7 linked regions of the Homo sapiens genome follow. The protein of the gene in region 5 purifies or fractionates together with the protein of the main gene of each other region. This does not show direct contact. Each region holds a gene or a part of one and is shown on either strand. Other genes may lie near its edges. The genes, in order: NAT10, DDX21, E2F2, MTF1, DCAF13, FIP1L1 and AP1S2.

Region 1 (4,582 bases), on a different chromosome or scaffold from region 5:
ACACATGCACACACACACACACAAAGTGAAACTTAGTCTATTAACTTGCCAGGCAAGAGAATACACACCAGTGCAGAAATTCACCAAGTAGTCTCTGAGAGGTAAAGTGAGGGGTTTTTAAGGGCTAGAAAAGGGGAGAGGGGCCTTCATGGTGGGTATGCCACTCAGGCACTCTGGACAGGACATTTAAGTGCATTGGTCTATATCCGGTTGGAAAACAAGTCCCATTGCTCACTGGACAAAAAAAGTCTTTGGTGAATGCCAATAAGGACCTAGGGTCCTAGAGGCACTCAAAGTCTCTGGCATTTGCTTTATCAGCTTTAGCTAGTTAGAACCCGTTATAATAACTCATCACTTCAGTTCTGGTGTCTCTAGACAAGTGCTGATTTAAAATTCTCTTTTTATATGGGGTAGGTGACCGAGTGTACTTTGGAAAGTGGCCAGGACTTCCACTAATAATGCTTGGGCATAGGGAACATGGGACTCTCCTCTCCTTACTGTACATCTGTTCCCAGTGGAAAGCCAGGCAGCCCAAGCAACCCTCAAGACTCTGACTTCAATCACAGGTTAGAGGAAGCCACCCACCTGCAGCACACACATGCCGAAGGTATTGCCCAGGATCTTGTGGGTCTCGTTGTAGTAGCAGTAGCGAATGTTTGTGGCTGCTATGAAGAGTTCAAAGGGGTCGTCCTGCTTTATGTTCAGTGTTCCATTCTTTATTTTCTTCTGCAGCTGTCGCATTCTTTTCTTCCGGTGACTGCAATCACACACCCCCAATCCCATGAGAGCCAGTTAACCAGAGCAGCTAAAGAGCTGGAACCAGGGGAAAGGCTCAGTGATCACCCACTTAGACTTTCAGAGCTAGTAGGGAACTTGAAAGTGTGAGGCCCACTTCAGGTGGAGGGCAGTGGAGAGGCATGAGAGGCATTAGAGTGCTTAAGGGCTTGGAGTAAGTGATAAGTCTATGTGTGAACTCTGCTATTTTGCCCTGTGACCTTGAGCAAATACTTTGCTTTAAAAGATGGGTAATAGGGTAGCTAACCCTCACATTTGGCCAAAGCCAGAGCTTGAAACCAAACCTGAGTGGCCTCATTATCTCAGTCATAAGCCAATGCTTCAACTACACTGTGCTGTTCCCCAGAGATCCTAGGAAAGACAAGGTGATGGCACGTTACTTTATTCATCCTTCCTAGAGGACTTCCTCCCCGAGAATGTGGGATTATGTCTTCAAGGGCAGGTCTTACATAAGACAATAATGATACAGGACACAGGGATCAGAATGGAATCTGGACATCTCTAAGGAATTCCTGAATTTTTTTGGTCTTAAAAACCCTGCATATCCAGTTGCTACTTACCTTTCCTTTACCAAAAGAGAGAATTAGAATGTTCTAGAATGGAGGATTACAGCTGATCAAAATTTTACCATAGTTCTCTAACTTAATAGCTAGAACAAAGGCCTTTCCTCCTGTGGGCCTCCACTTCCTCATCTATGAACCAAGGCAGTGGGTGAGTTTGTCTCCACTGTCCCTTCTGGCTCAGGCCTTAAGCCCGTGACTTACAAACAGGCATTAGCTTGAACACAATGCTCTGCCAGACTAAGACAGGGGTGGGGCAGAAGAGCTATAAGAGGTACAAAAGTAGATTTTTAGAAGTGAAGCCAGGTGGTTTAAATTCAAAAGGCAAATCTGCCCAGAAGACTTTGAACTGCCTAATTCCACACCCATCTCATATTTGCCAAATGAAAAATAGTGAAAACCAGAAGCCCTAAAAACTTAAAATTCTGGGATAGACAACAGGCCTTATTCTCAATCTGTATTAAAAATGCCTACCTCTCTAAATATGAGAGTATATACAACAGAATACCAATTATGGTTCAAAACTACATCCCTGTAAGATACACCTAGATGCTGACAATGCCTAGACAGTGAGATGTTTTTTATTTTCATCTTTGGGTTTTCTGCACTTTTCACATTTCATCAGTAAGGCTCTTATGATTGTCTGGTTTCCTTTAGGCAGAATCCCTTCACTTTAAGACCACAGGACAGGGGCAAGTTTAGCCTCTGGTACTAATTTAAATTAAAATAATTTTAGAGCCTGTTAACAACACATCCAACTCAATGTATACTGAGTACCTATGATAAACATGCTAAATCAGTTAAAAGTATGAAAATACAAAGATAAATAGAAGAGGGCTCCTAACTAAATAAGCTTATCACCTGAAAGTAAAAAAAAAAAAAAAAAAAAAAAAAGGGAAAGAAAAAAAAATGAACGTAAGTCACAGTATGTAAGTGACTTTACCCTAAAGCAAAAGCATCCATTGGCAAACATTATAGGAGAAGGACAAGTGCAGAGGAAGGTAGAGGAACCACCAGGTATGACTGGGGGGCTCAGGAAAAGTTTCACGGAGGAGGCAGGCCCTGAGAAACAGGATTTCAATAGGTGATACCGGGGAGGTGGAAGTGGCATTCCAAGCAGAGGAGACAGCATGAGCAAAGAAAAGGAGGGAGGTTAGTCACAGCATAAAGCAACCAGAGCTGGAGACAGGCTTTCAGAGTCAGATCGGAGATGAGCACATTTGGAAATTAGAAGAGGCTCAAGGACAGAATCGCACAAGCCAGCTAGGTTTAGAGTAAGGAGACGAGATCCAGAGAAAGAGAAGAGCTCCGGAAGGTGGTCTGAGTAAAGACACTGAAGCCAAAAAAGGAGACTATTTCTTAGGTGATGCCATGGTGGTTATCTGCCAAGGAACAGCACTACCCACCCCATCCAAACTTCTCCAAACACAAAGTTGTAGGTAGAACTTCCAACTTTGTATTATGCTATGACCAACCCCACCCTCCTCTGGCCAGGTGTGGGCATTTTTCCACCAGAATTTTGGGAAAAAGTCTGATTTCCACATGGCTGGGCCTGAAACAAGGAAAACGCAAGTGTTGTTTCTGCTAGGGGGACAACAGAAAACAGAAAGCTGGTCTGCAGTGAGAAAGTTGGTCTGCATAGAGCAGATACACTGAGATGACAAACTGAGCTGGGAGCATTAGTACTGTGACTCTAGATCACCCGTGAGCAGAGCTGAAATCTTATCCCCTTGGATTCCAGGAAATATCCCATATACCTCAATGAAATCCCTTTGTGCCAAATTGTATTTGTGTTGAAAGTATGTTATCTATGACTAAAAGTCTTGACTACCACAGCTTCAAATAGCCAACTGTCAAATACAGCAGTGAACTGGTAGAAGAAGAGGCAGAGCTCTGAAAAGGAGGAGAAAGAGAGAGAAAAGTTGACGCATTAGGCATCAAGCTGCTGGGGATGTCTAACTGCACAATTTGATCACAATTATAGAAGCAGAAACCAGACTGCAAAAGTGGCTACTAAGTGCAAAAGATTTCTGTTTTAAGGTATATGGCAATAAAAATCGGGGGAAATGCTAACCTGAGAGAGAAATCTGGGTATGTAAGTAATCAGCTTTTGATAATAGAAAAATCTGAGCATGTTTACAGGAAGGAGAAAGTTTCCAAAGGGTATTGGGTGGCCAGCAGAGGAAAGACAATACAGGTCCTGAAAGAGGTGAGGGAGGAGACACAGGGTACATAAAGGGGTTTTCCTTGGACATGGGATGAGGCATATACCCCCTCCATGAAAGAAGGGGAGAAAAAGAGAGAGAGTGAAAAGTGGAATAAATTTGAGGTAGGAAAGACAGTTTGAAGGAACTTGCAATGAGATGGGCTTAATCAGCCTAGAAAAGCAGGAAGGAAAACCATATGCAGAAGGCAAGGCATTGGATTGGTGACTTAAAAAGCATGAAAATGATTTGAAACTTATTTTCAGGAATGAAGAAAGGATATCAGCTCCATTTGTCCTCAGAGATAGCACCTCCACTAAAGACCCTTAAAAAATATGTGAAGGAATCATTTCCTGGCATTTAACTAATGAGCAGGAATTGTAAGTTGGATAAAACACATGAAGAGCCCAGCTTACCTGCTAAACCCCAGCTCTTTCTTATAACACCACAGCACTGAAGGCCGAGCCTTCACAGTTGCTTTGGATAACATGTGATGAAGTATTACCACCTGCCAAACAAAAAAGTCACAGAATTTCAGGCACAAAAGAGACTTTAGAGACCGCCAGGCTTAAGACCTCATTTGACGGATGTGGAAACTAAACTGAGGGCCAGGGAAGGGAAGTGCCCAAGGTTCTAAGGCGAGCAATGACCAGGTTTGGACTAGAAGCCAGGTCACATACAGTTCACTTTGTGGTCAACCCACCACCCCAGGCTTCAAAAGGTATTAGCTTGTCTGCGAATCAATCTAAATACAGAGAATTCACCACTTCCAGGAAATAAAGAAAGGTTCCCACTAGGCATCTTACCAGCCAAAGAGATCTTAATGCCATTATGTCCTGAAACAGCAGAGTGCTTAAACATGCTGATTCTTTGGACAAGATAAAAAGTAATTCAGGAAGCATTTACCAGGCCATACCTGATCTTTTCCTCGATCCCCAACTACAACAAAGAGAGATCTTTGCCGCTCAGCTACTCCATTCTCAATGAGAATCCGGATTCGGTTATCCACCTTTTTCCGATGCA
Region 2 (3,500 bases), on a different chromosome or scaffold from region 5:
AGGGAACCCTGTCTGTAGGACACTTAAAAAAACATGCCATGCTAAAATAAATTTGAAAAATGCAGTTAAAATACACTCTTCCAGGCTGGGTGTGGTGGCTCACGCCTATAATCCCAGCACTTTGGGAGGCCAAGGCGGGCGGATCATGAGGTCAGGAGATTGAGACCATCCTGGCTAACACGGTGAAACCCCGTCTCTACTAAAAATACAAAAAATTAGCTGGGCGTGGTGGCAGGTGCCTGTAGTCCCAGCTACTCGGAAGGCTGAGGCAGGAGAATGGCGTGAACCAGGGAGGCAGAGCTTGCAGTGAGATGAGATTGCACCACTCCACTCCAGCCTGGGCAACAGAGCAAGACTCTGTCTCAAAAAAAAAAAAAATACACTCATCCTTCCTTTCCTCCCTTCCCTGTCTTCTTTCTTCCTTCCTTCCCTCTTTCTTTTTTTTGAGATAGTCTCACTCTGCCACCCAGGGTGGAGTACATTAGCACAACCACAGCTCACTGCAGCCTCAACCTCCTGGGCTCATGCAATCCTCCCATCTCAGCCTCCAGAGTAGCTGGGACTACAGGCACTTGCTACCACATCTAATTTTTGTATTTTTGTATTTTTTTTTTTTTTTTGAGACAGAGTTTTGCTCTTGTTGTCCTAGCTGGGGTGCAATGGTGTGATCTCGGCCCACTGCAACCTCCACCTCTCGGGTTCAAGTGATTCTCCTGCCTCAGCCTCCCAAGTACCTGGGATTATAGGCGTGCGCAACCACGCCTGGCTATTTTTTTGTATTTTTAGTAGAAATGGGTTTTTTCCATGTTAGCCAGCTGGTCTTGAACTCCTGACCTCAGGTAATCCACCCGCCTTGGCCTCCCAAAGTGCTGGGATTACAGGTGTGAGCCACCGCACCCGGCCTAATTTTTGTATTTTTTATAGAGATGGAGTTTCACCGTGTTGCCCAGGCAATCCGCCTACCCCAGCCTCCCAAAGTGCTGGGATTACAGGCATGAGCCACCATGCCTGGCCCAAAACTCTTTCATTAACAAAACTTTCCTGAACTATTAATATGCTGATTGACATCCAGGATTTCCTTTGATCATGGACTCCCTGTGTCTGTTTTTTAAATAAGCATTTACAGTAATTGTGAAAACTACTATAAAAATGATGCCCAAACTCAGTGGTTCTTTAACAGAGAACATAGGTCACCATCAGGAGGCATCTGGAAAATGGTTTCTGGTTTTTATAATGCCAACCCTACTTACCCTGAGTATGTGGCACAGGGGAATCAGCCACGGATCCTAAGCAGCTAAATATCCTTCCATTTGCAGGACAATCCCATAAAAAATAATTCTCTTGCCTCCAATGCCAGCAGCACCTCCATTTGACAAACTGTTAATTAACCTAATCCTCACCATCTAGACATTTACTATTAACGAAGCAATCAACTTTCATCCTACCAGGGAAGGAACTGGATTAATGTAGATTTGGAATGTAATCTGTGGTCTAATCAGCCAGTGGGTGAGAAGCACCTATACTATACCTAAGATATTATCCCTTAAAATATCCTAGACAAAGCAAACTATTTTAATAGTGGTTTCCTCTGGTAAACAGGATAGGACAGGAATGAGTAGAAACGAGGGTATCCACTTTGTGAAATTCTACTTCAGCACGGTCTGGTTTTTTTTTGATAAACAGGTTATCAGTTAAAAAGAATAGGCTGTGCATGCTGGCTCACACCTGTAATCTTAGCACTTTGGGAGGCTGAGCTGGGAGGACTGCTTGAGACCAGGAGTTGAGACCAGCCTGGGCAACATAGTGAGACCCTGTCTCAAAAATTTTAAAAAAAAAATTTTTTTAAGTCAAATCTTATTACTGTACAAAGACATGCAGTATTTGAACCAACACTAAAACAGACCATAGCAGTGGTAGGGAACATACCTGATGGCATCTTTGCTGGAAGCTTTTATTATTTCTGTTGCAGAAGGAACACCTATTCGTTTGAACTTAATTCCCTACAGGAAAATGAACCACAGTTTAATGTACAGTGGCCATCAATTGTTTCCAATAAGATAAGCAGTCCCCTAATTTTTTAATATAGGCCAAATGTATGTATTACATTAAAAAATGAACTTTTAATTTTAGACTTACAGAAAAGCTACAAAGACAGTACAGAGAGCTCCAGGTTTCTGCTATTATTAACATCTTACACTGTTAATGTATATTTGTTTCAACTAAGAAACCAACATGGCTAAACTATTAATCAAACCCCAGACTTTATTCCATGTCTGTCTTTCCTTCTTTCCTTGTTTTTCATGACTTTGACAGTTTTAAGGAGTGCTGGTCAACAGTTTTGTAGAATGTCCCTCAGTTTGAGGTTGTCTTGTGTTTTCCTCATGCTCAGGGTTACATATTTGGGGGAGGAATACCCGAAGTGAATGCTCGCCTTACCACCTCTTATCAGGGGCACATGGCTATGTGCCTATCACTAATGATGTGACCCACGATCAACTGGCCCAGGTAGTGTTTGTTCATCTCTCCTCGGTAAAGTCCTCACTCCCCACCTTACTCTATTCTTTGAAAGCAAGTCCCTAAGTGCAGTCCACTCAAGAGGAAGGAGACGAGTGAAGCTCCTGAAGGGGCAAGAATCTACATACACTATTCCAATTCTCCTGGAGGAAAAATTAGTCTCTTCTCCCCTTTATCCTTTTGACATACCCTCATTCATTTGATTTTCAAGCAATTCCTACAGCCCCTCAATCTTAATTATCTCTGGTTCATATTTATCATTGTCTGAAAACTTCCTTTCAAACATATGAAAACAAAATCACTGTTTTCAAATGCAAAGTTACTTCAGAATGGGCCTTTTATCACAGGACAACATATGTACCTAACAATAAGCTTTCAGTCATTGCCACACACTAGAAATAAAAATATTTTAAAGTGGATAAAAATTGAAGAAACCAAAGACTGACTTTAGAACTCAACATTTGCTTAATGAAAGGTAAGAATAGTTTTACCGCTTTTTGCTCCACTTGTACTAACTGATATTCTTCCTTGTGCTGATAAAAGCAGATGCACACCCCCGTCCTTCCAGCTCTGCCTGTCCGCCCGGATCGATGAATGTAGGACTCTACATCCTATTGAAGTAAAATACATGAGTAACACTAAACCAAAAAAGAGAGACAAACACCTGAGTAGCCTATGCAGGTCAGTGAACACTAGCAATTGTGGTTATAAACCTGGGGACATGAGGGAGAAGGTCCCTTAGCACTTCAATTTAAAGACCTCTGGCAATTTTTAAAGCTTCTAGAACAATGGTCCCTGTCCTGCAGGCAAATTTACAAAGAGCATTGTCTAAATAGTGCTTGTCCATTAGAGGCATATATGTAATTCCAATTTTCAGTCTTCCAGTAGACAGACTGAAAAGATTTCTTTAAGAAGCTTAATGTATTTTAACTCAATATATCTAGTCTTTTTTTTTTCTTTTGAGACAGAGTCTCACTCTGTCACTC
Region 3 (4,582 bases), on a different chromosome or scaffold from region 5:
GGCCTGCTGGGGGGTTGGCGCTGGTGCTGGCACTGGAGACAAACAGACAAAGGTTACGCCTGGCCCTAGCATCCAACTCCTCAGCACGCGAGGACAGACTTCCGGTTCTCTGGATGACTGCACCCTTCTTCTCTCTCCTTAGCCTGGGTGGACTGTCGTGCTCTCAAAATCCACCTTCCAGAGTCTACACCCAACCCTACAACTTTTCATGTATTTTTTATTTTTTTGAGACCGGGTCTCACTCTATCACCCAGGCTAGAGTGCAGTGTTGTGATCTTGGTTCACTGCAACCTCTGCCTCCCAGGTTCAAGCGATTCTCCCACCTGAGCCTCCCGAGTAGCTGGACTACAGGCATGCACCACCACACCCAGCTAATTTGTGTATTTTTAGTAGAGATGGGGTTTCACCATGTTGGCCAGGCTGGTCTCGAACTCCTGACCTCAAGTGATCGGCCTTCCAAAGTGTTGGGATTACAGGCCTGAGCCACTGTGCCCGGCCAAAAAGGAAAGAAATTCTGACACATGCTACAACATAGATGAACCCTGAGGACATTAAACTATGTGAAATAAGCCAATCACAAAAAAACAAATACTGTGTGATTCCACTTACATTAGATACTTAGTCAAAATCGCAGGGACAGAGAGTAGAAGGGTGGTTGTCAGGGGCTGGGCAGAGAGGGGAATGGGGAATAGGTACAGAGTTTCAGTTTTACAAGGTGAAAGGAGTTATGGAGATGAATGGTGATGGTTACACAACATTATGAATGTATTAATTACCACTGAACTGTACATTTAAAAATAGTTATGATGGTAAATTTTTGTTATGTTGCCTCTACTCTCCACCACACACAACTATACCTGACCTCATCACCCTCTCCAATTACTGGCCCATTTTTCTGCTCCTTTGCACAGTAAACTTTCTCCAGAGTAGCCTCAGCTTGTCTCCACTTCCCTATTACTATTCTCTCTTCAACTCACTCCAGTCTGGGGTCTCTCCCCACCATGTCCCTGAGCCAGTGACATCCATGCTGCTAAACCCAATGGTCATTTCTCTGGCTTCATCTTATTTGACCTTTCAGTAGCCATTCTCCAGCACTCTATGCTCATTTCTTTCTCGCCGCCTTCTTTTTTTTTTTTTGAAACAGGGTCTTGCCCAAGCTAGAGTACAGAGTGCAGTAGGGTGAACACGGCTCACTGCAGCCTCAACCTTCTGGGCTCAAGCAATCCTCTCGCCTCAGCCTCCTGAGTAGCTGGGACCACTGGTGCGTGCCACCATGCCCATCCAATTTTTAAACTTTTTTGTAGAGACAGGGTCTCACTCTGTTGCCCAGGCTGGTCTCGAACTCCCAGGCTCGAGCAATCCTCCTGCCTCAGCCTCCCAAAGTGCTGGGATTACAGACATGAGCCACCACACCCAACCTGCTCATTTCCACTTAGATGTTAAGACGGTGATTTCCCATACAGGGACATGCAATGAAGCACTGGAAATTGCCTGCCACATATATCCTGATGCTCAGAATCCCCCACATTGCAGTCACTCCTTAAGCCCCAGCCAAGTATTATTCTGAAGATACAACTGCGCTGGGATGCTAGGCTGCCTGTTGAGACTGGTGGTGCACCCATAGGCATGTGATTTCACATTTTATTTATTTATTTAATTTATTTTGAGATGGAGTCTTGCTCTGGACTTCACGTTTTAGAGCATCCATTTTCTCCCCTCTGCATGGGGCAGCATAGCACTACCTACCTCAAAGGGTTGCTCAGAGGACCGCATGGTAAGTGCATATGAAGCACTGGTTTGGCCTGGTGCGGTGGCTCATGCCTATAATACCAGCACTTTGGGAGGGCGAGGCAGGCAGATCACCTGAGGTCAGGAGTTCGAGACCAGCCTGGCCAACATGGTGAAACACCGTCTCTACTAAAAATACAGAAATTCGCTGGGTATGGTGGCAGGCATCTGTAATCCCAGTTAATAGGGAGGCTGAGGAAGGAGAATCATTGGAACCCAGGAGGTGGAGGTTGTAGTGAGGCAAGATCACGCCACTGCACTCCAGCCTGGGCAACAAGAGCGAGACTCGTGTCTCAAAATAAAAATAAATAAATAAACAAACAAATAAATAAATAAGCACTGGTTTGTCGGGTCTGCATGCTGCCCTTGCTCCTGTTAAAAATTGCTCCCATTTACCAAGGCTAATGGGGGAGGTGGTGGCACTGCCCTTGAGGCGAGGCGTGGTTCAGCCTCCTTGCACACTCAAATGGCCCTGAGGGAGTCCATGCTGTTACCCCTATTTACAGATGAGAAAACTAGGGCCCAAAGAAGTCCATTAAATGTATATTAATTAAAAAAAAAAATCTAAGGTTTGTTTGGCACGCTGCTGATGTTACAGTCAGAGGCCTGGCTTGGGAGCGGGGAGCATGTGGGCTCAGACTCTAGCGCCTCCTCTCACCAGCCATGGAACCCCAGAACTCTGTTTCCTCATGTGGAAAAACAGGGATGAGTATTAGAAGCAGTAACTGATAAAACACATGTGAAAATCTCTATTATAGGTCAGACCTTGCTGTCTCCTGCTGTTGATCACGTCCAGAAATAGAATCGCCTTTTGTAATATGTGTCTCTCCACCACACTCTGAATGGCTCTTACTGCTTTTCTGTCTCTAAAACAGCACCAGGCCCAGCTCAGTAGATGCTCTTCACACAAGCTTTTTTTTTTTTTTGAGACAGAGTCCCACTCTGTCGGTCAGGCTGGAGTGCAGTGGTGTAATCTCAGCTCACTGCAACGTCTGCTTTCCTGGTTCAAGTGACTATTGTGCCTCAGCCTCCTGAGTAACTGGGATTATAGGCATGCACCACCACCTCCGGCTAATTTTTGTATTTGTAGTAGAGACGGGGTTTCATCGTGTTGGCCAGGCTGGTCTGGAACTTCTGGCCTCAAGTGATCCACCTCCCTCGGCCTCTCCAAGTGCTGGATTACAGGTGTGTGCCACCGCGGCTGGCCACATAAGTTTTTTTTTTTTTTTTTTAAATCACATTTATGCCATGTCATCTTCTATAACCCATTCAATATTCATGAGGAAATTTCAAGTGTCCCCATTTGAGAGATGTGGGAACTGGGGCTTTGGGGGGTTAAAGTGATTCACTCACAGTCACCAAGTCACTAAGAAGTGAGATACAGGCTTGAACACAGGTCTCCCAATTTCAAATCCTGTGCCATCAGCTACATTTAGGTGTATCTCAGAATGTCAGAGCCTGGAGAAATGTCAGAGATGATGTTGTTGAAACCCCTTCCATTACAGATGAGGGAAACTGAGGCTGCAGAGAACACTTCCCCTGGTAATGCAGAACCAGGGCCAGGACCCAGGTCCCAAGACTGTAGTGGCTTCCTCTCTTACATGGCTTCTGGCACTCAGACCTCAAAATGATACTATTTCAGAACACAGCACGGAACATGTGTGTGTGTGTGTGTGTGTGTGTGTGTGTGTGTGTGTGTGTGTGTGTCTGTGCAGGAGAATCCCTTGAACCTGGGAGGCGGAGGTTGCAGTGAGCCAAGACCAGGAAAACTTCCTCCTCCTCCCTTCAGCAGGGATAATACTATGAGGCCATGTGACAAGGGTCGTGGGGACAGCCATGACATGAGAGCTGGCCCCACCAGACTGCTGTGTAAGCCTCTGCTCCTCTCTGGGCTTCAGGATCTTGATTTGTAAAACTCAGGTAAAAACTTCACACCCGGCTGGGCTCGGTGGCTCACACCTGTAATCCCAGCACTTTGGGAAGCTGAGGTGGGTGGATCACCTGAGATCAGGAGTTCGAGACCAGCCTGGCCAACATGGTGAAACCCTGTCTCTACTGAAAATACAAAAATTAGCCGGGCATGGTGGCATGTACCTGTACTCCTAGCTACTCGGGAGGCTGAGGCAGGAGAATTGCTTGAACTTGGGAGGCGGAGGTTGCAGTGAGCCAAGATTGTGCCACTGCACTCCAGCCTGGGTGATAGAGTGAGACTCTGTCTTAAAAAAAAAAAAACAACTTCACACCCTTGTTTATGCTTTGGGATCTGCCACCTCCACCCAAGGTCTCAGAGGACAACTGAAGCGAAGGTGGTTCCAGCTTCGGAGGGCTATGCGCATGCTGACACTTGAGTGAGGAGGCACAGCAGGAGGAGGATGGACCAGAGGGTGGGGCAGAGGTCTGGGATGGGAGATAGGCACTGGGGAGGTGTCCCAAGGGACAGATGGCTAGCACAGGGAGAAGCTCTGGTCCCTGATGAGGCCTGACAGACACAGGAGAGATCATTAGAGAAGAGTTGGGAGGCTGGGCTCTGGTCCCAGCTCTGCCATCAACTTGCTGTGTGACCTTAGGGAAGCCACTTGCCCTCTCTGGGCCTGTGTTCATTCATGTGTTAAAAGAAGGGTTGAGTTAGTTGGGGACAGCAAACTTCTATAAAGAGCTGGAGCCTGTAATCCCAGCACTTTGGGAAGCCAAGGCAGGTGGATCACCTGAGGTCAAGGGTTCAAGACCAGGCTGGCCAACATGGGGAAACCCTGTCTCTACTAAAAATACAAAAAAAAAAAAAATTAGCTGGGTG
Region 4 (4,582 bases), on a different chromosome or scaffold from region 5:
AGGAGAGTCAACAACATCTTGGTTTGTCTGAGTGGATCATTCCACTGCCTGAGGAATTTATAATGAGGCATGAGATTGGAACTAGGTCTCCCAAAGTAAAGGACATACATTGCAAAAAGGCTCCAAAACACTGGAGTCAGATTTTTCCTGTTATACTTAAAATCTGTCACACTAAAAGAAATAACTCTCCTCTTGGAATGCCACTGGCCATGCAATTAGTTCATGGTGTGTCTAGAAGCAATATACCAAGCAGCCTAAAAACATTGCTGTAGGCCAGGCGCAGCAGCTCACACCTGTAATCCCAGCACTGTGGGAGGCCAAGGCGGGTGGATCACCTGAGGTCAGGAGTTCAAGACCAGCCTGACCAATATGGTGAAACCCCATCTCTACTAAAAATACAAAATTTAGCCAGGCCTAGTGGCACATGCCTGTAATCCTGGCTACTCGGGAGGCTGAGACAGGAGAATCTCTTGAACCCTGGAGGCGGAGGTTGCAGTGAGCCAAGATCGTGCCACTGTACTCCAGCCTGGGCAACAGAGCAAGCCTTCACCTCAATTAAAAAAAAAAAAAAATTGCTGTAACTGTGCTTGTTGGTAGAAAATGATACCTTTCCTAATCAATGTGCTGGAATACTTTGGTGCATCATGTAGAATAAATTTTGCATACGATTCCTAGGGTTTTTTCATGCTCCTTGGCCAACTACTCTATAGAAAACTGGCAAGGTCAGTTAGCCATGGAGGATACATCACGTCACCAATGTAGTGCAGACAGAGGTAGATGAACAGGTAACTAGACCGTCCTGGCAGGTTCTATGGAAGGGCACAGATTCAAGAATGGACTGCACAAACCAACTAAAGAAAACACAGTTGCCAGGTGTGGTAGCTCATGCCTTTAATCCCAGCAGCTCAGGAGGCTAAGGAGGGAGAATTGGTTGAGGCCAGAAGTTCCAGGTTACAGTGAGCTATGATGATGGCCTGGGCAAACATAGCAAGACCCAGTGTCTTAAAAAAATAAAATAAAATACGTAAACAAACAAACAAACAACAAGACGCAGCTGCTTCGAGACTTGGAGTAGAAAGGCCTTAAAGGGCCAGACATGGTGGCTCATGCCGGTAATCACAATACTTTGGGAGGCCAAGGTGGAAGGATTGCGTGAGCCCAGGATTTTGGAACCAGCCCATAGTGAGACCCCTCTCTACCAAAACAACCACCAAAAAGTAGCCGGCACAGTAGCACATGCCTGTGGTCCCAGCTACTGTGGAGGCTGAGGTGGCAGGACGGCTTGAGCCTGGGAGGTTAAGGCTGCAGTGAGCCATGATCGTGCCACTGTACTCCAGCCTGGCTACAGAATGGAACCCTGTCTCAACCAAAAAAAAAAAAAAAAAAAAAAAGCTTTTGTTTTTAGGCAGAATGAAAATATTTTGATTAGAAATTTTGCAAGCTGGCCAAGTGCCATGGCTCATGCCTATAATCCCAGCACTTTGGGAGGTCGAGGCAGGAGGATTGCTTGAGCCCAGGAGTTTGAGGTTACAGTGAGCTACGATCCCACCACTGTAATCACTCCAACCTGTGTGACACAGTGAGACCCTGTTTCAAGAGAGAAAGGAAAGAAGAAAGACAGAAAGGGAAAAGAAGGAAGGAAGGGAGGGAGGAAGGGAATGAGAGAGAGAAAGAGAAAAAAAAGGGAGAGAGAAAGAGAGAGAGAGAGAGAGAGAGATCTCAAAGCTACCAAATCAGTAGGGAGACAGTAATGAAATAACAAGTATGAGAATAAGATACGTGAAATTCGAGTCAGAATGACCAGCGGCCTTGTGGTAGGAAAAGACTATCTGTGGCAAGGTTCTGGTTGGTTTATTTTTTGCGCAAGACAAGCATGAAGAAAAGAAAATGAAGTAATAGGTAAGCCAACTCCACACTATATGAAACAATGAAAAAACCAGGAGTAAACAGGAAATTCAGGCTAAAATGTGACTCAGAAAATAAGCTGCTTGGGAAGCCAAGAAGACCAACTAGTTATCAAATGATTTGATTTCTCAAGAGTAACACCTGTGCATGGAGGGAAAAGAAAAAACCAAAAACCAAGCTGAAAAAAAACGAAAGGAAAAGGAGTAAGGAAGAGCTAAAGGATCATGAAGTCTGTTATCGAGTAGTCATAAACATCAGCCTCTTCAGGCCAAATAAGTGGATTTTAATGCCAAAATAAAATCACTGCCAAAACAAAAGCTAAGCTAAGACAGTGCTTCAGGAAGGCAAGCCTCCTGAATGTCTGGTCATTAAGCAAGATTTTCGAAGACTAAAGCTACTGCTACTTCTCCTTCAATCTCCACCCAACCCCAAACCTACTGATTTCAAGAATATAGCATCTTCCACAAAGGTCTCATGGATAGCATGGAAAAATGTGGGTGAGAGGAAAGTGGAGTGAGCTAAATCCCCAGCAAACTGAACAAAGTGCTCATAATATCCTTGACCCTGTGCTATTCAATATGATTATCAATGATCTGAAGACAAGAATGGCAAACCAGACTTGCAAATAGAATAAACCAATTTGAATAGTACAAAGTGGAAAAGTGACAGCTTTTCACTGATTGCATAATCATTCCCTCTGTACCATCTCCTCCTCTTCTGCCTAGATCAGCATTTCCCAAAATGTGTTCCACAAAACACTGATCCCTGGAAATTAGATCTGAAAAATGGTTTCTCAAGTTTAAAGCATTTGAAAAATTCTGTGTTTTCTTCCTTCTTAGCTGTTGGCACATCAAAGGCTCTGAGAAGTCCTAATCAACAAATTTCTGTCTTGGTTTAACTTAATGTTTCCCGAACATTCGCTCATGAAACACTTTCACACAGTAATCACTGATGGAGGATGGCCTAAAGTTTAGGTCCTAAACTATGTCCAAATTACCTATGCTAAACAAAAATGATTCAATCTCCTTGAGCTAGCTACTACTGCCTCATCACTCTTCTTCCTCTAACTACCAAACTTATTTAAAAAAAAAAAAAAAAGCCAACTTGACATTTCCTGCCTCCTGTTTCCTCATCACTCACTCACTTCTTCATCACTCAAAACCTGGCTTCAGCCCCAGTGCTCTGCTGCAAGTCTTCTCATGATATGTGAACAACTGCACAACCAGCACAACTAAAGGCTTCTTCGGGGCTCCTCAATCCCTCTGCAGGGTCACACAGGAATATTCTCATTTGTTGACACTCTCTTCCTTCAGCTTCCACAACACTGCAGTCGACCCATCTCTTTGACTACTGTGATCTTCTTGGGTTCCTCTTTCTCTTTCCAACCCTTAAATTCTCAGGCCAACTCTTACTTCTCCCTTAAGTAAACTACCCACAGTTTGAAGGCCCCTTTCTACTACTATTCTAACTCCAAACCATTTCTTTGACCTCAGATACACGTTTCCAATGAGCTTTCCATTTGTTCATGTTACTTTTCTCCAAGGACTATACATTCAATACACTCCTACCAAACTCTTTAATTACCCCATCAAAACTTTTTCCTTTTCCCATCTTTCTTGATTCCTATGAATGGGATCACCATTTGGAGGGTGCGGAGAGCAGAGTTAGCCACTTTCTCCTCAGCATGCACACAGCACTTCGAATACACCTCTGTTAAAATATCTACCACAACGGACTCTTAACTGCTTAACTCTTCACCTAGATTTGAGCTCCATCAAAAAGCTGTGCTAAGACACAGCAGAAACTCAACAAATTTGGGAAAATGGATGAATCCTTTCAATCAACATGATTCAAAACCTTTTTTTTTTTTCCAACCAGATTCTCATTTTGTTGCCCAGGCTGGAATGCAGTGGCACAATCATGGCTCACTGCACCCTCCGCCCTCTGGGTTCAAGTGATTCTCCTGCCTCAGCCTCCCAAGTGGCTGGGACTACAGGCATGCACCACCACAACCGGCTAATTTTTGTATTTTTAGTAGAGACAGGGTTTCACCATGTTGGCCAGGCTGGTCTAGAGCTCCAGACCTCAACTGATCCACCTGCCTCTGCCTCCGAAAGTGCTGGGATTACAGGCATGAGCCACTGTGCCTGGCCTATTCAAAACCTTTGAATCATGCCCAACTCATGGCTCATTCATCAAACTCCAATAACACGTACGAAGTTCTCTCGTACTTCTACAAAAGTCCTTGATTCTTCCCATGAACAAGGCCACTATCCTTTCTTCAGATTTAAATGAAACCCCAAACATAAACTACAACTGTCTCCTAACTAGGCAAGAAGTCTCCAGTTTTCCTCTGCCTCCAAGCTACCTCTGCTGCCAGACCAATCCTTCTAAAATGCTACTCTAACCACATTCTCTATCTAACCACTCTAGCCTTGGCTTAGACACCTCCAATGGTTTCCCACCATTTCTAGGAGAGTACAGTTCAAAACCCATAGAAGGTTACCACTGCCTTCCATGTTTGGATCTTTGCTATCTTTCCATCCTTATCTCCTTCTACTACTATGTTCTAGTCTAAGGGTCAGCACACTACAGCCAGTGAACCAAATCCACCCCACTGCCTGTTTTTGTAAAGTCTTATCAGAACTTGGCCATGTTCATTCTTTATGTATTGTCT
Region 5 (4,582 bases):
TTCTATATTTTCCTCCTCATTTCCTCCCAATGATGCCATACTATGGCTTCAATGATTAGTTCTATATTGATGATGTCAAGTTCAGCTCTGACCTCCCTCCTGAGCTCCAGACCTGCATCTGTAAAGGTATGACAGACATCTTCACTCGAACAGCCCATTAGCAGTCCAGTTTGTCACATCATATCCTTCCCATTGCCACCCTTCAAAACTTGCTGGTACTCCTCAGCAACAGGAACCAACCTCTTCCCAGGCACCTCTCAGTTGTCAAACCTGTCAATCCTCCAAAGTATCAACCACTGATTTCTAGTTTTCAGTCTCCATAATAAGGTAGCCTCTTATTATTGCCTGCCAAACTATTAAAATGGCCTTCAAACTGATCACTAACTGCTGTCAAATTACTTAACTCAAAGCACAGCTCAGATTTTGTCGTTCCCCTTGTTTAAAAAGACTTTCAATGAACTTGAATTGGTATTTGTACACCAATGGTCACGGCAACACTATTCACAATAGCCAAAAGGTGGAAACAAATCAAATGCTCATTGATGAATGAACGGATAAACAAAATGTGACACATACAATGGAATGTTATTTAGCCATAAAAAGAAAGGAAATTCTGACATGTACTACAACATGGATAAACCTTGAAGACAATTATGTTAAGTAAAATAAGCCAGACCCAAAAGCCTTATTCCACATACACAAAATGGTATAATTCTTTAAAATATGCTTCTATTTATATGAGGTACCCAGAATAGTCAAAATCACAGAGGCAAAAAGTAAAATAGTAGTTACCAGGGGTTGGGGACTGAGGGGACAGAGGAGTTATTGTTTAATGACTATAGTTTCAGCTGGGGATGATGAAAAAGTTCTGAAGACAGATGGTGGTGATGGTTGCACAGTGATGTGAATGTACTGGATGCCACCAAACTGTATATTTAAAAACAGAGAGTAAATTTTACGTTCCGGATATCTTGCCACACACAGGCACAAAACTTCGATGATTCCTTATTATCTGACTAACAAAAGTACAAATTACTCATCTTAGCATCAAAAATCCTCCAGAGTAAGCCAAACTCTTTCTAGACTTACCTCTCATTAATTCCACTTTTGTGGTAAATTGAATATTAGTTTAATCATGTTAAGTTATGGGGAAGGCTGAATTATATAAAGAAAACTAGTAATTTTCAAGGTTTAATAAGCTATTTTGCATTGTGAAACTCCAAAAGGGCCTAGGAACAAATAAATGAACTTGAAAAAAAATGTATTCAATTAGATTATTCTTACCTATGTTGATCAAATTTAATGACTTAATGGTATTATACTTACAGTGAAAAAAGAAGTCCCACAAAAGCGAGTACATATTCCTCGTACAAAGCCTTCATGTGCTTGTATTGTACGGATACAATTCCGCTGAGTTAGATTCCAAATTCTAACCTATGATAAGGCATACCAGGAAATTTCAGTGAACTATAAATGTAAAATGTTCAGGATAAATTCAACACTGACAAGGCTACGAATCACTCTACTGGGCAGCTAAAACCAAAATCCTTTGGATTAAAACAATGCAATGCATATGGATAAGTATACTGATGAGCAAAAAATACAACCTGACAAATACTCTGTTGATTCTAAAGTGTTACAAAACTTTTTCACTTGCCATAGTAGGAAATTAGGTGTTGACAACATCTGTGAAAAAACTCATACTTAAATACTTTAATTATAAACATGATTATTTAATTTACTGTCAAATTGATCCTTAAACTACTGCATTTATAATTTCTTAGGTTTAAAGAAGAAAATACTAAACAGTATTCCTAACGAAATTTAGTCTTGAGAAGTAAATTGAAATCCAATAAAGTAAAACCTACAGTAACTAAAAACTAAAGGGAAAACATTTGTAATATAACTACTTTTAGTTGAAAATATCATCTAGATTGACACTTGCCTCTCCATCACACGCCCCAGAAAGGACAGTAGCCAGCTTCTCTGGATGCTTTGCCAAGCAATTGACTCCATCACGGTGACCATCCAGCGAAGCAAGGAATGGTTTTGCAAATACTCGTTCCAGTTTGGTAGCATTTAAAGCTCTTATATATTCTCGTGGGACCTCAAAAGGATGTAAAGCAGGATCATAGTTTCTTGGAACTGAAATAAGAATGATCCTTCTTAATAATTCACACTTAATATTTCCTGCAGTCTTCCTCAGCTAATCACTCTGTTATTCAATAAGCATTTAGTTAGTGACATTGTTCTATGCCTAACACTAAGAATACAAAAGTAGAAGACCTGTTGTTCAGAAATCTTTCTGAAATTACTGGAAAATCATGGGATGCATACATCTTGCAAAACAATTAGACCCTAGGTATATATACATGCAGCATTTCCTTTTTTTTTTTTTTTTGAGACGGAGTCTTGCTCCGTCACCAGGCTGGAGTGCAGTGGCGCAATCTCGGCTCACTGCAACCTCCGCTTCTCAGGTTCAAGCAATTCTCCTGCCTCAGCCACCCGAGTAGCTGGGATTACAGGCGCATGCCACCACGCCCAGCTAATTTTTCTATTTTTAGTAGAGATGGGGTTTCACCATATTGGTCAGGCTGGTCTCGATCTCGTGACCTCGTGATCCACACGCCTCAGCCTCCCAAAGTGCTGGGATTACAGGCATGAGCCACCGTGCCCGGCCTCCCTTTTATATGTCCTAGTACCCTCTTCAACTGGGTTGTAAGTGTTCACTGTCAGGGCTTCCAATACACTTTTCATTTGTACTTCCTTATGCCTAGCACAGTTTCTGGGACAAAATATGTGCAAGATGTTTGCTCAACAGAACTCTAAGCTTCCTGTAGGGCAGGGAACATTATTAATCTCTGGTGCTAAATACTGTGCTGATAGACACACGAAGTTGTGATTATGATGATATTATATAGCTATCATTTACTGAGCACTTTCTATGTTTGTTTACTTACTTAAAAAAGACTCACATAAGAGTTCAAGTGCCAGGCGCTGTTCCAAAAACCTTAACCGTTTAATCTCCACAGCATCCTATGTGTTAAGTTCTATTACTATCTCACACTTTATTGATGGGAAAACTGAGGCATAAAGAGGTTAAGTAACTCGAATACGACACGGTGGAGCCAGGATTCAAACCAAGGCAGTATGGCTCCAGAATCTATGTTTTAACTGTCCTGATACGCTGCTAAACACATTGTCTTGGTTAATAATCACGCTTAGGGCCGGGCGTGGTGGCTCACGCCTGTAATCCCAGCACTTTGGGGGGCCGGGACGGACGGATCACGAGGTCAGGAGATCGAGACCATCCTGGCTACCACAGTGAAATCCCATCTACTAAAAATACAAAAAGTTAGCCAGCGGTGGGGGTGGTATGTGCCTGCAGTCCCAGCTACTCAGGAGGCTGAGGCAAAAGAATCACTTGAACCTGGGAGGTGGAGGTTGCAGTGAGCCGAGATCGCGCCACTGCACTCCAGCCTGGCTGACAGAGTGTGACTTCATCTCAAAAAAAAAAAAAAAAAAAAAAAAAAAAAAAAAAATATATATATATATATATATATATATATATATATATATATATAATTATGCTTAGAAAGTAATTTTAAGCTCGTATGTCTAAAAAAACTCAGTGAGTAAAAAGTAAATGCATCTTCTTACCCCATGACTTCATCCTGCTGTTTCTTTCTGACTCCCTGGTAATGGTGTTATATCTAACATTCAACAAAGCTCTAGCCTAGGTCATTCTTATGTATTCCATCTTCCATATTCCCTACTACCAAAACTCAAAGTCCTACTCATCATCTCTTTGCAACACTTACTCATCTTTCAACTCTCTATTTCTAGTTTTTTGTGTTTTGTTTTTGTTTTTGTTTTGAGATGCGGTATCATTCTGTCACCCAAGCTGGAATGCAGTGATATGACTATAGCCTACTGCAGCCTCAACCTCCAGGGCTTAAGTGATCCTCCCACCTTAGCCTCTCACCTCAGCCTCCCAAGTAGCTTGGACCTGAGGCATGCACCACCATGCCCCATTAATCTTTAAATTTTTTGTAGAGACGGGGGTCTCCTTATGATGCCCAGGCTACTCTCGAACTCCTGGGCTCAAGAGATCCTCCCACCTTTGCCGCCCAAAGTGTTGGGTTTATGAATGTGAGCCACTGCATTCCCAGGCAGTTTGGGTCTTCATTATCTTATACTTGGGCTACTTTAATATCATCCCTACTTGATTTGGCGGCAATTTACACTATTATCAGATGTCTTTTTTTTTCTTTTTTTTTTGAGACGGAGTCTTGCTCTGTTGCCCAGGCTGGAGTGCAGTGGCGCAATCTCGGCTCACTGCAAGCTCCACCTCCCGGGTTCACACCATTCTCCTGCCTCAGCCTCCCGAGTAGCTGGGACTACAGGCACCCGCCACCATGCCCGGCTAATTTATTTATTTTTTTGTATTTTTAGTAGAGATGGGGTTTCACCATGTTAGCCAGGATAGTCTCGATCTCCTGACCTCGTGATCTTCCCGCCTCGGCCTCCCAAAGTGCTGGGATTACAGGCGTGAGCCACTGCGCCCAGCCTATCAGATGTC
Region 6 (4,582 bases), on a different chromosome or scaffold from region 5:
CATATTTTAAGAATATGAAAACATACAAATGATAATTTTAGATGGGGAAAAAAGTATACACAGAAATATAATTATAATAGTATCCCAATTTTGCTTAGTATCAAGAGATGTACCAGATGTGGTTATCTTTAGGTGGTAAAATCACTGGTGGTCTTTTATTTTTCATTCAGTAAACCTATATACAAGTTGAGTATTCCTAATCCAAAAATCTGAAATCTGAAATGCTCTAAAATCCGAAACATTTTGAGCATCAACATTTTATCACAAGTGGAAAATTCCACACCCAACCTCACATGTGACGGATCACAATCAAAACTCAGGCCCACTACACAGTTTACTCAGGGTTGCCAAAGGAAAAAAGATTATCATAAATTAACAAATCATTATAACAAATTAAATAACTTATTTATGAAACATAAATTTCATGTTTAGACTTGGGTCTCATCTCTAAGATTACATACGTATGAACATTTCAAAATCCAAACATTTCAAAATCTGATACACTTCTGGTCCCAAGCATTTCAGATAAGAGATACTCAACCTGTACTATGTTTCTACCAAGGAAAAGAAAGAAAACCCTATTAAAAAAAGATTCAGAGATTATAAATTCTAACTGGAAATGCCTTTATAATAAATGACTGGCTTCACATTTTAAATCTCTTTGTATCACCTAAAACACAGCATAGCACTATGACTATCTATTGAATAAATTAAATTATAATGTTGATATCATCCTTCAGTTAAAGAAAATTATTTATTTTAAAATACTAAACCTGTATGTTGCTGTTCTCATTTGCCCGTCGCCTGCCTTCTACTCGGCTGATAGTTATAGTCTGACCGATAACATCAATTGCCCCAGGTAATCTCCTGTAACATAAAAATTGAATCAATTCAGTTTCACCTAATTAGATGCTTAAAAAATAATAAAAGCAGTGAGAAATAAAAACAAAATGTGTTTGCAATAAATTTTAAAATAAAACCAGATCACAATACACATTGAAAAATATCCCTGAGTTTAAGCTCACTACTTTGCATTGTCATAAAAATTTTTATTAATAAACAAGCTAGAACCAACATACCCAACAATGATCATAATGTTAAGTTTTAAGTCTCTGTAGAGCTCTTCTACACTTACTAGTTTTAGTAGTCTCCAAATAAATTTATCTTTGTGAAATTAAATAAGACAGCAAATGCTAGACAAATGGAAATTTTGGGACCACTACAATTGTAACACATACTACAGCTCTATTACAGAAACTTTAAATATTCCCCAAAAAGGCCTGAAAATAATGCTCATTTTAACATACACAAGATATTTTCCTTGTGATATATTCCAAGTGTTAAAAAACATAAAAAAGGAACCAGTTTGCCATTTCTGATAACTTGCATTTAGATAGAAAAATTCAAATATTTAAATACCCGCCTCACCTCTACAATCTTTTTAAAGTTTATAAGGATATGGAAAAATAGTCTATCATAAAACAATGCTATAAATTTAAGAGAAAAACCTAGTAAGTTGTATTTTAAATAAAATAATGTTAAAAGCTATTATGCAGATAAAGGACTTTACAAAAGTATGCATGCCTAAGATGATATAGAAGTCACTTGGAGAAATAGGCAATGAAAAGTGGATGCAAATTAGATGAATTTCTCTTCATCTATATTTCAGTTCTGAACAATACTGCCTTTAAAACTTTATAGAAGCAAAACAATTAAAATACCATAGATCCTTCCACAGTCACTAGATTAGGCTCCTAAAATGACAAATAACAGCAGCTACCATAGGTTGGATGCCAAACCCATTATATCTAAACTTCACAAAAACTGAAAAATTACTGTATACTTGTTAGAGACAAGCCATGGTCCAAAGTGAAATCACTGACACAAGCATGAATTAAATAGCAAAACTAACTTTCAAACCTGAGTCTTTCTAATCCCAAAGACTATAGACCTCCCCTCCCCTTGAGCTAGGTTTCCTTCCAGCAAGACCTTTGAGGAATTTAAGGCTTTTCTGGAAATCATGAGTTAGTAAGAGTTTATCTCAAGTAGACCTTGAAACACTCCACAAATTATTTTGTGCTAACAAAGACAGCCCTATAAAAAGCACATCATGACATCTGAAATGTTTTCAAGTACATAGTCAGTTCCCACTTACCATCCCTTGCCCACTTAAGACTTCCCTTCTCTATAACTTTAGTACAATTTAAAAATGTTCAAGCCTTTCTAATTTTATGCCTGAGTCACTGACTTCCTAGATTTCCTCATGATCCCAAAGATCATGAATGATTTCATTGGAGGATTAACATATCCTCCAATACAGCTGGGGAAAGATCTTAATATTCACATGTTACAAAAATCCAAATATCTCTACAATAAAACAAATATTGCTTCCATTTCTTCCCTATAATTTAAATTGCAAAGCTATGCCTACCATGACTGCATTATCAAAGCACATGCCATCAGCCCTCTGATATACAAACATTTCATATTCCAACATCCTACTAAATACAGGTGTGCATTCTGAGGCTGTAATTTCCTCTCTGTTAATTGCTGCCCTCCATTGTCAAAATTTTTATTTTCGCTCTATTTCCTTTTCTACTATTTTCTCTTGCCAATCACTGGACTCTCTCCTTTGCATTTTTAAATTTATTCCCATCAAGAACAAATTCTACCAAATTTGTTTGGACTTGCAAGTCAGATAGCAAATTCTCCAAATTGTTAAAAGTGGTAAAAATTAGATCTAGATATAACTTTCCTGTTGAGGGGAAAATTTTCTATAGCCTGTCTTTTACCATTTATTTCTGAGGATCTCTAGTTTTCAAAAAGTCTGGGACACATGGAAGTATTCACCTCTTAAAATGTACCTTAAATATGGTCAGAAGTCTAATTAGTTTTTTTCAACTTTAAATTGATTGTTTTTAATCACTAAAGATTCAAAATGGCAAATACTATGTTTCTAAAAACATATAACTGAGAAATCAGCCTTAACAAGTATATATCCCTAAAGGGAGTTCAGAAAATTACAATTCTCCACATTTTCAAAACATCTCCTTGTGCCCGTATTTTTTAACCACATAAACTGATTTACTTTAATCATATAAATTAAGCTTACCGTTTTGTTCCAAAATGTTTTATGATAAGACACACAGTATGTACCACAGCAACAAAAAGCACATAATATCTAACACTGACAAATAATTTAAAAATCTAATATTATTCTGATGCCACATTATGGAAAAAAATATTGAACCATATTATTCCACGAAAGTTCTTAATGGACAGCTTTTTCTTTCATTGCTTAAGAAGATTTAATAGAGTTTCCCTATGAGGAAATCTACTGTAACTTAAGAGTTCCCCAAAGCGTAGGTTTGATTAGGCCAACAAACTTGTTCAGTAAGGTAGACAGCTAATGCTATTATCAAAATCCTCTTCTCCATATTGGACTCAACCATCTAGTAAAAAGCTAAGAAACTAACCACTCTGGGTGTCTGAGTTAATGTACAGTTTAAACAGGCAGTAAATGTTCCCAAGAGCCTCTACCTCCCCTCCTGGCACAGTAAATGAATATAAAAATATCTCTGAAGTTACAATGGAATTAAATTATCATATTTTGATGATTCTGATATCCCAGAAAGAATCTGAGGGCTCCCTGCAGAGATGCAACAGAAAGTTTAAGATGACAAATCAGGGCTAATAGAAGATAGACAAAAGGCCATAAATTGATCTCTGAAGGTCAGGCTCACGCATGTAATGCCAACACTTTGGGAGCCTGAGGCGGGAGGATTACTTAAGCCCAGGAATTCAAGACCAGCCTGGGCAACATGGCGAGACTTTGTGTCTACAAATAATTTAAAATATCAGCTAGGCATAGTAGCACATGCTTGTGGTCCCAGCTATTCAGAGGGCTTAGGTGAGAGGATTGCTTGAGTCCAGGAGATGAAGGATGCAGTAAACTGTGATTGTGCCACTGCACTCCAGACTGGGCAACAAAACAAGAGCCTGTCTCAAAAAAAAAATATATATATATACATATATATATATCTCAGCTGCTTTTTCTTGGAAGCCAAAGCAAAGGACATCATTAACAACAAATGTCTTTAATGTGCATTAAGATTAAAACAAAGCATTTGCTCTAAGATTGTTTTCCTGGTAATGACAGCTAGTATTTATGGAGCACCTACTATGCGCAAGGTAAGCACTGTTCTAAATACTTTATATATATTTAGTCTTCATGATAAACCCATAAGGTAGCAACTCTCATTATTGTCATTTTACAAATGAGAATAAACAGAAAAAGATTCTCCTCTGAGTCTAAGAGAAAATATGAGTACAATAGTTTTTAAACTTTATTGACTACAAAACACAGTAAGAAGTACACTTTACACAGCAATCCAGTACCCACAATACATTAAAAACTAAAAAAGATTCATGAAACAATACTTAAAAAAGGAAAAATGGTGACACTAAGATAAAATGTAATTTTATTAATATTTAAATATAGCATAGGAAAAAAGCAAAAGAAACAATACAAAACCAAGAAATACTGGTTGGGACCACCAAATTGTTTCACAACCCACTAATG
Region 7 (3,836 bases), on a different chromosome or scaffold from region 5:
GGTCAGAGAATAGAACCTAATGCAGAAAAAGCTTCAGGCAAAATATTATACCTAGATTTCTGATCATAAATAAGATGCTCTCCAGCTTTATCAATTTTTTGTCGCTTTCTTTCCATTGACATATTTGGGATCTAGAATTTTGGAGTATGTGACATTTTTCAATTTGAGATTTGGGAATAAGGACTTAAAACATACGTAAAATACTGAAACGTTAACGAAATTTAAGTAGGAAGAAAGTTTCCTCAAAATTGGAATTTCTGCATGATATCTGTTAAGGATGAGAGTTCTTTCATGTGTAGTCAATAAAAGAAATCATGCATGTGGCCCAGGATAATTTCACTTTAAAAAGTTGGATTTGTTCCAGACTCTAAATGCCTGCTTCACCCTGAAAATGATTGACCTAGAACTATCTACTGATTTCAGTAACGCCGAGTAATTATCATTAAATTCAGTATTTTTTAATACTTTTCTAAATACAGTCAAGATATATGCAATTAAATGTGGTCTGCAAAGCTGAAATCTTAATAAATCATGGAGGCTAAGAAAGAAAACCACCATCTTGAGCTCAGGACAACTGAGATATTGATGACTTTCCCCTCAAATGTTAATAGGCAGGGTAGAAGGGCAGGAAGTTTTTAAACCACTGACTGGTTCATTATCCTGATAAATGTCCATCTTGAACTTAAATTTATTAGTTTTTTTTAATATATATTGCCTGATTACTATTTATGTTTCAAAAATTCCAACTATACATTGCTAGCAGAAACCCACAGGCCTGTTTTCAGTGAATAGCTAGCTGCATGTTGGAGGCTTTTTAAACCTATAAACGTCTTTTTTTCCAGTAGACTAGCAACTTAATTTGATGGTAGTTCCTGCCTCCTTCTTAAATAGCCCAGTTTTAGAATGTAACATTTCCTATCTGTAGTAATAGGAGGTCCCTTAACTATCATGATTACCATAGATTTGATTTGTTGCATAGGTTAGGTAGTACAGTCTGCAAGTATTAGTCCCTTTCTGTTGCATGTGCTAGCACCTTCAGTTCACAAGGGGGTAAGAGGAATCCAGTTGATTTGAAATACCTTTTGAGTAACAGTCTAAGTTGTTCATTCAGAAAGAGTAGAAAAGTCAACTGCATCAAGGTTTTAAAAGCAGCATTTATTGATTGAAAATAAATGTGTAGATAGGCTCTCAGTATGGAATCCATGTTATTTTTTAATGAAGTACATGAAGACTCCTTAGATCTTCCACCATGTATCTTGTGTGTGCTTATAACAACCACCATATTCAAATGGAGGGGAATTTTCAACATTTTACTGAAAAAAAAATGAGAAATTCTTCCTTCAGCAGCTCTGCATAGTTTGACAAACTTTTGGAAAGAGATAAAAACACACTCCAGTGTTTGTACGTTGAACGTTTATTACAACTAATTGGCGATGTGATAAGACAGTGCTCACGTGGCCTGAATGTTGGTCACAATCACAACAAAGCTTAATCCAGCCCAGCATATATAAGTGAAAATATAAACCATGAAGACATGTTTAGATATGTATAAGTACTTAGAAAAGTGACGCTGAACAATTACATAGCTTTAAAAAATATAGAGCCATCTAATGCCATTTTACCTCATTCAACTCTTTTTTGTAAGAAATGTGTCTTTTTAAATTTTTATAAGACTTCTGTTAACTAGGCAGTGCCATGGAAAGAAAGGAAGCTGCTGTAAAGTGTGCAGCACTTCTAAGTGGAGGGAAGCAAAATAAATTTAGCTTTAACAAGTACCCCAGAGGGAACATTCGTGCTTTAAACAATGACTTTACACATAATACTGTGAAGAGAGCAACACGTTTTTTGTAAGATACTGTTATGAAGAATTCCTGGCAAATTACCATTCTCACTTTATTTTGGGGCATCAAAAACAACTAAGTATTTGATTATGACCACAAAAAATTCATCTCAGGAGTCAAATGTGCCTTGGCCTTAAAAATTATGTGCTTACTATTGTGAAACAATCCTGTTTCTCATCCCAGATTCAGAATGCCTAAGAAATAATTTTTAGTGTAAGAAGTATCACTCCAATTTAGTCATTAAAAATAATCTGTAGTCCTTTAAAAAAAAAAAAAAAAGGTATGTAATTTCCAATACAAGTCTTTGGAGTAAATTTGCTTTTTAAAGTTTCAACAAAGTTTCCATTCATTTGATATGTGACATGTCAATTCCCTTTTTTTTTTTTTTTACATATGCTGAAATGCTGCACTAGTCTTTGGTTTCATAAAACCAGGTTTCACATTATAATTTAAGAGTTTCCTTTGTCAAATACAGTAATTAATAAATGTATACTGCCTGATTTTACATGTATATGATGTGCCATTTTCATATGTGCACATAATCAGATTAAGAGAAACTGACCTTTAAACTTTAAAATATCCAGAAAAGGTATCTCTTTCTGCACCATTCTAATTCATATTTAAGTCCCTTATCACTTAATTAACTAAAGTTCCCTTTTAAAAAAAAATTGTGTAGGCATGAATGAAGCGGCTTAGCAAAACAGTAATACTGACAAGACATCATCTTACACCATGAGCTAACATGGACATGAAGGGAGTGACCATCTACAGTGTGTGAAATGCCACAAGAAGTCATCAACAAGGGAGGAGAGTTATGTCAGTCCAATTTCTTCAAGAACACTACGTGGGGTTTCAGCTTCCTGTGGAGGGAAAATGTGAGACTCTGGTAAGCAGATCCAGGGAGTCTTGAGAATGTGAAACATTGACATGGAAGAACATGCTTGTTTTAGAGAATCAAGAAAGCAATTTCGTGTCACAGTAGCATTCTAGTTGACAGCCATTGGTTATTTAGGGTTTTGTGCCCTCAAAATTGGAGACCACAAAAGGACGTTTTCAGCATTCATTAAGTACCTGCTAATTACCTACCAATGTGCTAGATGCCGTTGCTGTCATGCAAAAAGCAGTCAAGCCCAGTGCAAACCTGCTGGCAATTTATGAAATCACTGCTACTCAATTATATATATGAAAGATAAGTTATCTTAGTGGTAAAATTCAAAACCTCTTCCCTCCGAGTTCCCACAGTTCTTCGCCTACTGTTGTGTTCCATGCTTTTTGTCACATGCATTTATAGAAATGTCTTCCTCTTGGAGTTTTTAGTTAACTGTGTCCACAGCGGCAAGTCTTCAGAAACAGCTATCTTCCCAGACCTCCCCAGTGCAACCAATGGCATCACTAGAGGCCACATATGCAAAGAATGCCATGGGCCAAAGGCATTTTTATTCTATGTAGCAACCAGCACTGGTTTTTAAGTGTCAAAGGAGGTCAAAACAAAGTAAGCATATCCAGGAAAAAATTATTTAATAATTTTCCAAAGTGGCTGATTTTGCAAATCACAAAATAAAGGACCAAGGAGGCCAACTTTCAGGTATTACTAGCAACGAATTTTGTAATTAAAAGGCAACACTATATTTTAATGATGGAAAATAATATAAATTTTTGGCATCCAGTAATAAACTTACTTTCGCATCCTAATCATGGTACAGCACAAAGCAAGGAGAAGAGAAATTATATTAAACCATAAATCTTTAGAATATTAATTGCATGTAAAGCACTTCATGGTGTAATCTTAAGTAAATTACTTAAACTCTATGGTCTGTTTCCTTATTTGGAAAACATGGATAATAGTACTTACCTTCATATGTTGAGATTAAGTGAATTAAGGCTCTGCCTAATTTATAGAAAGTGCTTCAAAAATGTTAGGTGATATAGTTACACAATTGAAATCGAAATGATTTAGCATTTATTATTAAACGCAAGTACTATACACCAATTCTA

The links.
Region 1: the proteins of DCAF13 (region 5) and NAT10 purify together in Homo sapiens (affinity purification with mass spectrometry, with the first as the bait; one large-scale study listed by BioGRID). This does not show direct contact.
Region 2: the proteins of DCAF13 (region 5) and DDX21 purify together in Homo sapiens (affinity purification with mass spectrometry, with the first as the bait; one large-scale study listed by BioGRID). This does not show direct contact.
Region 3: the proteins of DCAF13 (region 5) and E2F2 purify together in Homo sapiens (affinity purification with mass spectrometry, with the first as the bait; one large-scale study listed by BioGRID). This does not show direct contact.
Region 4: the proteins of DCAF13 (region 5) and MTF1 purify together in Homo sapiens (affinity purification with mass spectrometry, with the first as the bait; one large-scale study listed by BioGRID). This does not show direct contact.
Region 6: the proteins of DCAF13 (region 5) and FIP1L1 purify together in Homo sapiens (affinity purification with mass spectrometry, with the first as the bait; one large-scale study listed by BioGRID). This does not show direct contact.
Region 7: the proteins of DCAF13 (region 5) and AP1S2 purify together in Homo sapiens (affinity purification with mass spectrometry, with the first as the bait; one large-scale study listed by BioGRID). This does not show direct contact.

Annotation. Positions count from the first base shown.
Region 1 is NC_000011.10:34,108,227-34,112,808, reverse strand, and holds part of NAT10 (RNA cytidine acetyltransferase), read right to left. Parts: coding exon 4,476-4,582; intron 4,068-4,475; coding exon 3,976-4,067; intron 758-3,975; coding exon 586-757; intron 1-585. UniProt on the Homo sapiens protein: RNA cytidine acetyltransferase that catalyzes the formation of N(4)-acetylcytidine (ac4C) modification on mRNAs, 18S rRNA and tRNAs.
Region 2 is NC_000010.11:68,973,170-68,976,669, reverse strand, and holds part of DDX21 (nucleolar RNA helicase 2), read right to left. Parts: intron 3,126-3,500; coding exon 3,006-3,125; intron 2,001-3,005; coding exon 1,927-2,000; intron 1-1,926.
Region 3 is NC_000001.11:23,510,117-23,514,698, forward strand, and holds part of E2F2 (transcription factor E2F2), read right to left. Parts: intron 33-4,582; coding exon 1-32. UniProt on the Homo sapiens protein: Transcription activator that binds DNA cooperatively with DP proteins through the E2 recognition site, 5'-TTTC[CG]CGC-3' found in the promoter region of a number of genes whose products are involved in cell cycle regulation or in DNA replication.
Region 4 is NC_000001.11:37,848,873-37,853,454, forward strand, and holds part of MTF1 (metal regulatory transcription factor 1), read right to left. Parts: intron 1-4,582. UniProt on the Homo sapiens protein: Zinc-dependent transcriptional regulator of cellular adaption to conditions of exposure to heavy metals. Binds to metal responsive elements (MRE) in promoters and activates the transcription of metallothionein genes like metallothionein-2/MT2A.
Region 5 is NC_000008.11:103,417,827-103,422,408, reverse strand, and holds part of DCAF13 (DDB1- and CUL4-associated factor 13), read right to left. Parts: intron 2,146-4,582; coding exon 1,946-2,145; intron 1,435-1,945; coding exon 1,327-1,434; intron 1-1,326. UniProt on the Homo sapiens protein: Part of the small subunit (SSU) processome, first precursor of the small eukaryotic ribosomal subunit.
Region 6 is NC_000004.12:53,422,157-53,426,738, reverse strand, and holds part of FIP1L1 (pre-mRNA 3'-end-processing factor FIP1), read right to left. Parts: intron 868-4,582; coding exon 774-867; intron 1-773.
Region 7 is NC_000023.11:15,824,672-15,828,507, forward strand, and holds the end of AP1S2 (AP-1 complex subunit sigma-2), read right to left. Parts: intron 3,530-3,836; coding exon 3,521-3,529; intron 2,702-3,520; coding exon 2,654-2,701; 3' UTR 1,135-2,653; downstream 1-1,134. UniProt on the Homo sapiens protein: Subunit of clathrin-associated adaptor protein complex 1 that plays a role in protein sorting in the late-Golgi/trans-Golgi network (TGN) and/or endosomes.